Linked DNA regions of Homo sapiens. The protein of the gene in region 1 interacts with the protein of each later gene in a pairwise test. Each region holds a gene or a part of one and is shown in the gene's direction. Other genes may lie near its edges.

Region 1 (3,500 bases):
GTCATGATTTGTAGCATGTACCAGTTTCTGTGGTGTAAATACACTTGTCGTGGCTGATCTCAAGCTACTGACGTGATGTCCTCGAACGTGGACTTGGGAAGAAGATATACTGTAGCCACCATCTTTAGGGTGTTTCTACCACATGGATACAATAGACGTAAGAGCACAGATAATCGTAAAACAGAGAAAAATAAGTAGGAAGTGACGAATTTCAAGTATTTATTACCTCTGTTGAATATAATTTATTGAACTGTAAGCTTATATATAATTCAACTTTAAAAAATGGCCTGAGTTGAACAACCAGCTCACCACAATTCTATAATCTAGGAGTTGGCTCTCGTGGGTCGGCACAGGTCAGCTAGGGTGCCTGGTCCTGGTGGAGGGCAGGAGGCCCCCTTCCCCTGGCCTCCCTAGCCAGTCCCCACACACAGCCCCAGTGGCCTCCACAGCTCCACCCTCCTTTCATGGCCGTTCTTTTTCTTAGATGCCAAAAGCAGAAACTCCCCGAGATCGAACCTGAAATTCCGCTTTGACAAGCTCAGCCATGCCAGCTCTGGTGCGGTAAGGATGCGCCTCCCACACCCCACACTCCACTTTCTGCAGAGGCCCAGCCTTCCTTCCTGAGGCCAGAGGAAGAGGGTTCAGACATCCCAGAGGGGGCTCCCCGAAGGAGGCAGGGGAAGCTCTGGGGACGTCTGGCTCCAGCAGGTGCAGGCCGTGTCTCCGGGTTCCAGCCACCTTTGCCACAACTCCCAAGGTGGAGCTACACCTCTGGACACGGCCAGGCCCAGATGTGAGGTGGGAGGTGCTGGTTCCTGGGTCCCCCAGTCCCTTCCTGAGCTCTCCAGACTATCGAGAGCTCCAGGCCCAGTTGTGAGGTGGGAAGGGCTGGTTCCTGGGTCCCCCAGTCCCTTCCTGAGCTCACCAGACTATCGAGAGCTCCAGGTCCAGATGTGAGGTGGAAGGTGCTGGTTCCTGGGTCCCCCAGTCCCTTCCTGAGCTCTCCAGACTATCGAGAGCTCCAGGTCCAGATGTGAGGTGGAAGGTGCTGGTTCCTGGGTCCCCCAGTCCCTTTCTGAGCTCGCCAGACTATGGAGAACTCCAGGTCCAGATGTGAGGTGGGAAGGGCTGGTTCCTGGGTCCCGAATCCCTTCCTGAGCTCACCAGACTATCAAGAGCTCCAGGTCCAGATGTGAGGTGAGAAAGGCTGGTTCCTGGGTCCCCCAGTCCCTTTCTGAGCTCGCCAGACTATCGAGAACTCCAGGTCCAGATGTGAGGTGGGAAGGGCTGGTTCCTGGGTCCCGAATCCCTTCCTGAGCTCACCAGACTATCGAGAGCTCCAGGTCCAGATGTGAGGTGGGAAGGGCTGGTTCCTGGGTCCCCCAGTCCCTTCCTGAGCTCTCCAGACTATCGAGAGCTCCAGGTCCAGATGTGATGTGGGAAGGGCTGGTTCCTGGGTCCCGAATCCCTTCCTGAGCTCACCAGACTATCGAGAGCTCCAGGTCCAGATGTGAGGTGGAAGGTGCTGGTTCCTGGGTCCCCCAGTCCCTTCCTGAGCTCTCCAGACTATCGAGAGCTCCAGGCCCAGTTGTGAGGTGGGAAGGGCTGGTTCTTGGGTCCCGAATCCCTTCCTGAGCTCTTCAGACTATCGAGAGCTCCAGGTCCAGATGTGAGGTGGGAAGGGCTGGTTCCTGGGTCCCGAATCCCTTCCTGAGCTCTCCAGACTATCGAGAGCTCCAGGTCCAGATGTGAGGTGGGAAGGGCTGGTTCCCGGGTCCCCCAGTCCCTTTCTGAGCTCGCCAGACTATCGAGAACTCCAGGTCCAGATGTGAGGTGGGAAGTGCTTGTTCCTGGGGTCCTGAATCCCTTCCTGAGCTCACCAGACTGTTGAGAGCTGAGTGCACAGAGCCGCCGTGGAAGGGACCTGTGCTGTCTGGTTATTTAAACTCCTGTATGGATTTTTGTTGAAACAGGGTCACTAATGTGAAAGTGGAGTCCTTCGCCTGTCCAAGGTGGGTTGAGTGAATGTCCTGCTGTGGCCGTGAGGGGGGACGTGTGTTTCTTTTAGATCAGGGAACTAGAGGCCTTGTAACCTCAGAATGGCCGGAGAGATGCCGCCAGCTGGGGATGTCCAAAGAGTCTCCTACTCGCCCCTGAAGACCTGCAATGGGGAAGGAGGGGCAGATGGCCTGTGTGCGGATGGGAAGGGGGTTCCCAGTGACACTGGACTAGACGTACTAGTTAGGCCTCCCTTCCACCGATGGGGTCTGGTTCCCGCAGGCAGAAGGGGAGTCGCCCAAGCCCGCTTCTGACCCAGGAGGGAGGAGTTCCTGAGGGCTCCCTTGCTCCCCTGCCCTCAGGCAGCTGTTCCCTCCTTGTGTCTTTGGCGGAGGCCCTGGGCTGAGGTGTGTTCTCCCTCCCTGTCGGGAGTCAGCACTGTGAGGGACCACCCCAGGAGGCCTCTTCCCCTGCCTGCTTTGAGGGGGCACGTGGTTTGAGCAGAGTGGCCGTGGGTCCAGCTCGCCCCCATCAAGGCCTGGATTTCTGCTGGGGAAGTCACCAGAGACCCATCTGAGCTCCCAGCCCTCTCCCCACATGGGGCTTCAGGGGTCAGAGTCACAGCTGGAGCCAAGAGGAGGGGTACAACCGAACCCACTCTGTGTTCAACCTGATTTATGAAAAAGCAGAAGACAAATGGGCATATGGACCTTCACCCCCGGCTCCCATCACGCACTCTGGACGCCACTGCCCACCAAAGCCGTGGCTATGCGCAGCTTCTCGGGCCACGCAAGGTGGGGCACCCTTACATCAGGTGCCCTCCTGCTCCTGAGTGTATCCAGTGAGCTGTAGCCATGGGCAGGCGTGTTCCCCACCCCTTGCTCCCGACGTCCGCGTCGTCCCCTCCTTCCTGTACGGAATGTTCGCTCATCGCCGCCTCCTCCTTGTCTCCTCAGGGAATCCCCTCTTCTGTCCTGGAAAAGGCTCCTGTACCAGCAGTTTGGGAGTGCCGTCCACGACCCTGACAGTCCCAGCCCTGCTGCCCCATGGCCACGTGCCCACAGATGTGCTGTTGGTCCAGGTGTCCCAGTCTGGCCACAGCCCTGCCTCCGCCCTCACCTACATGCCCTCCCAGCCCCTCCCATCTCTGGACGAGGCCTCCTTCCTCAGGTTCCTCCTGCTCCTGACCTCCCAGTGTGATGTCCGGGTCCTTTATCATCCTATTCATCCTGGAGAGGAAAAGTGTCGGGCAAAGGGGGATCTGGGGGGAGCTCAGCAGTGACTGGGGAGCTGGTCTGCCTCAGAGACAGAGTAGGGGGTGGGAGCAGAGCCTCGGTGAGGGTCTTGGCCACAGGGCAGTGCCTTCCTGAACGTGGCAGGCTTTACTACCAGGAACGCACTCGGTGGTGGAGGCCCCATGTTCCCAGGAGCCAAGATTCGTAGCATCCTTGAGGCCATCCTGATAAAATTCGGCGCTATTGCCCCCGTAGCTCTGGAGCTCT
Region 2 (3,500 bases), on another chromosome or scaffold:
AGTGCTTCTAGGACGTAGTGGGGAGGGATAAGGAAAAAAATAAGTAGATTATTGGGGATAGTGAATGATAAATCTATTACTACCGAGATTTGAGTTATCTTTTCGATTCACAGAGTACTCAGGGAGTCTCTCAGGTTGCTCCTGCAGAGCCAGTTGCAGTAGCACAGACCCAAGCTACCCAGCCGACCACTTTGGCTTCCTCTGTAGACAGGTACGTAAAACTAGAATTCTCCTTCCTTGACTGGTAAATAAGACGGTATGAAACGCCAAACTGTCAGACCTTTAAATCTCATATTATAAACTGCACTTTTTTTTCTTTTTAAATTTCAAAGTGCACATTCAGATGTTGCTTCAGGTATGAGTGATGGCAATGAGAACGTCCCATCTTCCAGTGGAAGGCATGAAGGAAGAACTACAAAACGGCATTACCGAAAATCTGTAAGGAGTCGCTCTCGACATGAAAAAACTTCACGCCCAAAATTAAGAATTTTGAATGTAAGTATTCCTAATTTGTGAGTTTCATGTTGTTAAAGGAATTTGACACTGAAAAAGATTTTAGAGGTCATCAAATCCAAACCACTCACTTCATAAAATAAAGATAACTATCTGTGTGTGACAGATAATTTTTTTTTTTTTTAGACGGAGTCTCGCTCTGTCGCCCAGGCTGGAGTGCAGTGGCATGATCTCTTCTCACTGTGATTGCAGTGCCTCCTGGGTTCAAGCGATTCTCCTGCCTCAGCCTCCCAAGTAGCTGGGACTACAGACACGTGCCACCACGCACGGCTAGTTTTTGTATTTTTAGTAGAGACAGGGTTTCACCATATTGGTCAGGCTGGTTTCAAACTCCTGACCTCAGGTGACTCACCTGCCTCAGCCTCCCAAACCACTGGGATTACAGGCACCCAGCCAGATAATTTATATAGTACTCTTCTCATTTCATGCCCACAGTCTCTTTGACTTAAATATCACATTTTTAGAAAAATGAAAAGGTAGTTCATAAAGCTATGATAGGGCCAGCAGTTAATATCATTTAAATATTTCTTAAGGCTTAGATGAATTGATGAATGTATAGGATCTTATAATTAGCCAAATGATATTCTTACATTCCATATTTCTATGATAAAGCACTACTTATCTTTTAGAAAAAGAATAGAGAGTTTTAGTAAGTAGCTCAAAGGCTAACGTCTTCTCAAAGATTTTTCTTGCTACCAGTTTAAGAGACAAAGTACTAGTGCTCCAAGGAACAGCGATAACACTATGCTTCCTTAGACATAAAGTCAAGTGCTAATCTGCATTGCTTTTCTGAAATTCAGTAATAAAGCTGAATATGGTCTTTGGAGATGATGTACCTTTTTTCTTTTTAGGTTTCAAATAAAGGAGACCGAGTAGTAGAATGTCAATTAGAGACTCATAATAGGAAAATGGTTACATTCAAATTTGACCTAGATGGTGACAACCCCGAGGAGATAGCAACAATTATGGTACGTCTGCATTTGGAGTTCTAGGTTTTTCCTTAGTACTTGATCTTAATAGCCATTGCTCTAGGCAAATATGCCATATTTTATAATCCATGTTTTTTTAAAGTTATGCATTTACTTCAATGTGAATAAAACTATCACACCCAACCTGTGATTTAGTGATGTTTTTGTCTAGGCTATGTCTAACTAGATATTGAAGTTCTTAAAAAGAGAAGAGCTAACTTGAGTACAAAATAAATAAAAATATAGGTAAGTATGCAGATAGGACAGAAGTCATAAAAGTGACATAAAGTTTGAGAAATGACACTAATTAGACTGACATCACATTTCTTTTACAGGTGAACAATGACTTTATTCTAGCAATAGAGAGAGAGTCGTTTGTGGATCAAGTGCGAGAAATTATTGAAAAAGCTGATGAAATGCTCAGTGAGGATGTCAGTGTGGAACCAGAGGGTGATCAGGGATTGGAGAGTCTACAAGGAAAGGATGACTATGGCTTTTCAGGTTCTCAGGTAGGTTCACCACTCCCATAGTGAAACTTTGTTGATTTAAAATATTTTCATAGTTCTAAATTTGCTATGCAAAATGTCCAGTGATATCACCTGACACCCATGACCGACAACAAACTTTTATGTTCTCTTCACATGTGGCAGTTTGCTTTGCCTAGTCATTGAGATTGCATTTGAGAATGTATTTAATCACTTTTGTTTGTTGTAGAAATTGGAAGGAGAGTTCAAACAACCAATTCCTGCGTCTTCCATGCCACAGCAAATAGGTGAATTTATTTTCTTTCCTTGTTTTTACCTTTGACTTAAGAAGCCATTAGCCGAGGGTGGTGGCAGGCTTCTGTAGTCCCAGCTACTCAGGAGGCCGAGGCACGAGAATCGCTTGAACCCAGGAGGCGGAGGTTGCAGTGAGCTGAGATCGCGCCACTGCACTCCAGCCTGGGTGAGAGAATGAGACCGTGCCTCAAAAAAAGCAGTTGTATGTGCCAATAATGAAGTCTAACAATATTTATAATAATAATGCTATTAAGTTACGTTTGTTTGTTTGTTTTTGACCAGGCATTCCTACCAGTTCTTTAACTCAAGTTGTTCATTCTGCGGGAAGGCGGTTTATAGTGAGTCCTGTGCCAGAAAGCCGATTACGAGAATCAAAAGTTTTCCCCAGTGAAATAACAGATACAGGTAAGGGATTGATTCTGCCACATTGTTATGTAAATTCTACAGTGCCTCTGCTATGTTGAAAGCTTAATCATAAAGCAGTAATTTATGATGACACAGATAATAAAAAAGAATAGAAAACTGAAGTTATAACCAACAGATAAACATATGGGAGAGGGAAATAGATGAAGAATACAGAGAATTACAGAAAAAGCCAAGAAGCACGGCCATACCAAGATATAGTCTGTATAATAGATATTGTAGTATGTGTTTATTTCTGCACTTAGTACTGTTGTCTATGTTTTAAGATTACTCCATATTTTTTATCAAAAACAGATATTTATAGGAGCTGACTTAGGCTAGCAGACAATCTTTTGAATCCATCCTTTTAAAATCAGCTGATTCTTATCTTTTTGTATTCCTTTGCAGTTGCTGCCTCTACAGCTCAGAGCCCTGGAATGAACTTGTCTCACTCTGCATCATCCCTTAGTCTACAACAGGCCTTTTCTGAACTTAGACGTGCCCAAATGACAGAAGGACCCAACACAGCACCTCCAAACTTTAGTCATACAGGACCAACATTTCCAGTAGTACCTCCTTTCTTAAGTAGCATTGCTGGAGTCCCAACCACAGCAGCAGCCACAGCACCAGTCCCTGCAACAAGCAGCCCTCCTAATGACATTTCCACATCAGTAATTCAGTCTGAGGTTACAGTGCCCACTGAAGAGGGGATTGCTGGAGTTGCCACCAGCACAGGTGTGGTAACTTCAGGTGGTCTCCCCATACCACCTGTGTCTGAATCACCAGTACTTTCCAGCGTAGTTTCAAGTATCACAATACCTGCAGTTGTCTCAATATC

Evidence for each region. Proteins that work in one complex are often made in the same cells at the same time.
Region 2: the proteins of RAP1GAP2 (region 1) and WNK1 interact in a two-hybrid assay, tested with the Homo sapiens proteins (one large-scale study listed by IntAct).

The regions. Positions count from the first base shown.
Region 1 is NC_000017.11:3,030,438-3,033,937, forward strand, and holds part of RAP1GAP2 (rap1 GTPase-activating protein 2), read left to right. Parts: intron 1-484; coding exon 485-561; intron 562-1,973; coding exon 1,974-1,982; 3' UTR 1,983-2,012; intron 2,013-2,954; 3' UTR 2,955-3,500. UniProt on the Homo sapiens protein: GTPase activator for the nuclear Ras-related regulatory protein RAP-1A (KREV-1), converting it to the putatively inactive GDP-bound state.
Region 2 is NC_000012.12:881,579-885,078, forward strand, and holds part of WNK1 (serine/threonine-protein kinase WNK1), read left to right. Parts: intron 1-113; coding exon 114-211; intron 212-332; coding exon 333-495; intron 496-1,364; coding exon 1,365-1,481; intron 1,482-1,816; coding exon 1,817-1,990; intron 1,991-2,195; coding exon 2,196-2,253; intron 2,254-2,542; coding exon 2,543-2,665; intron 2,666-3,070; coding exon 3,071-3,500. UniProt on the Homo sapiens protein: Serine/threonine-protein kinase component of the WNK1-SPAK/OSR1 kinase cascade, which acts as a key regulator of blood pressure and regulatory volume increase by promoting ion influx.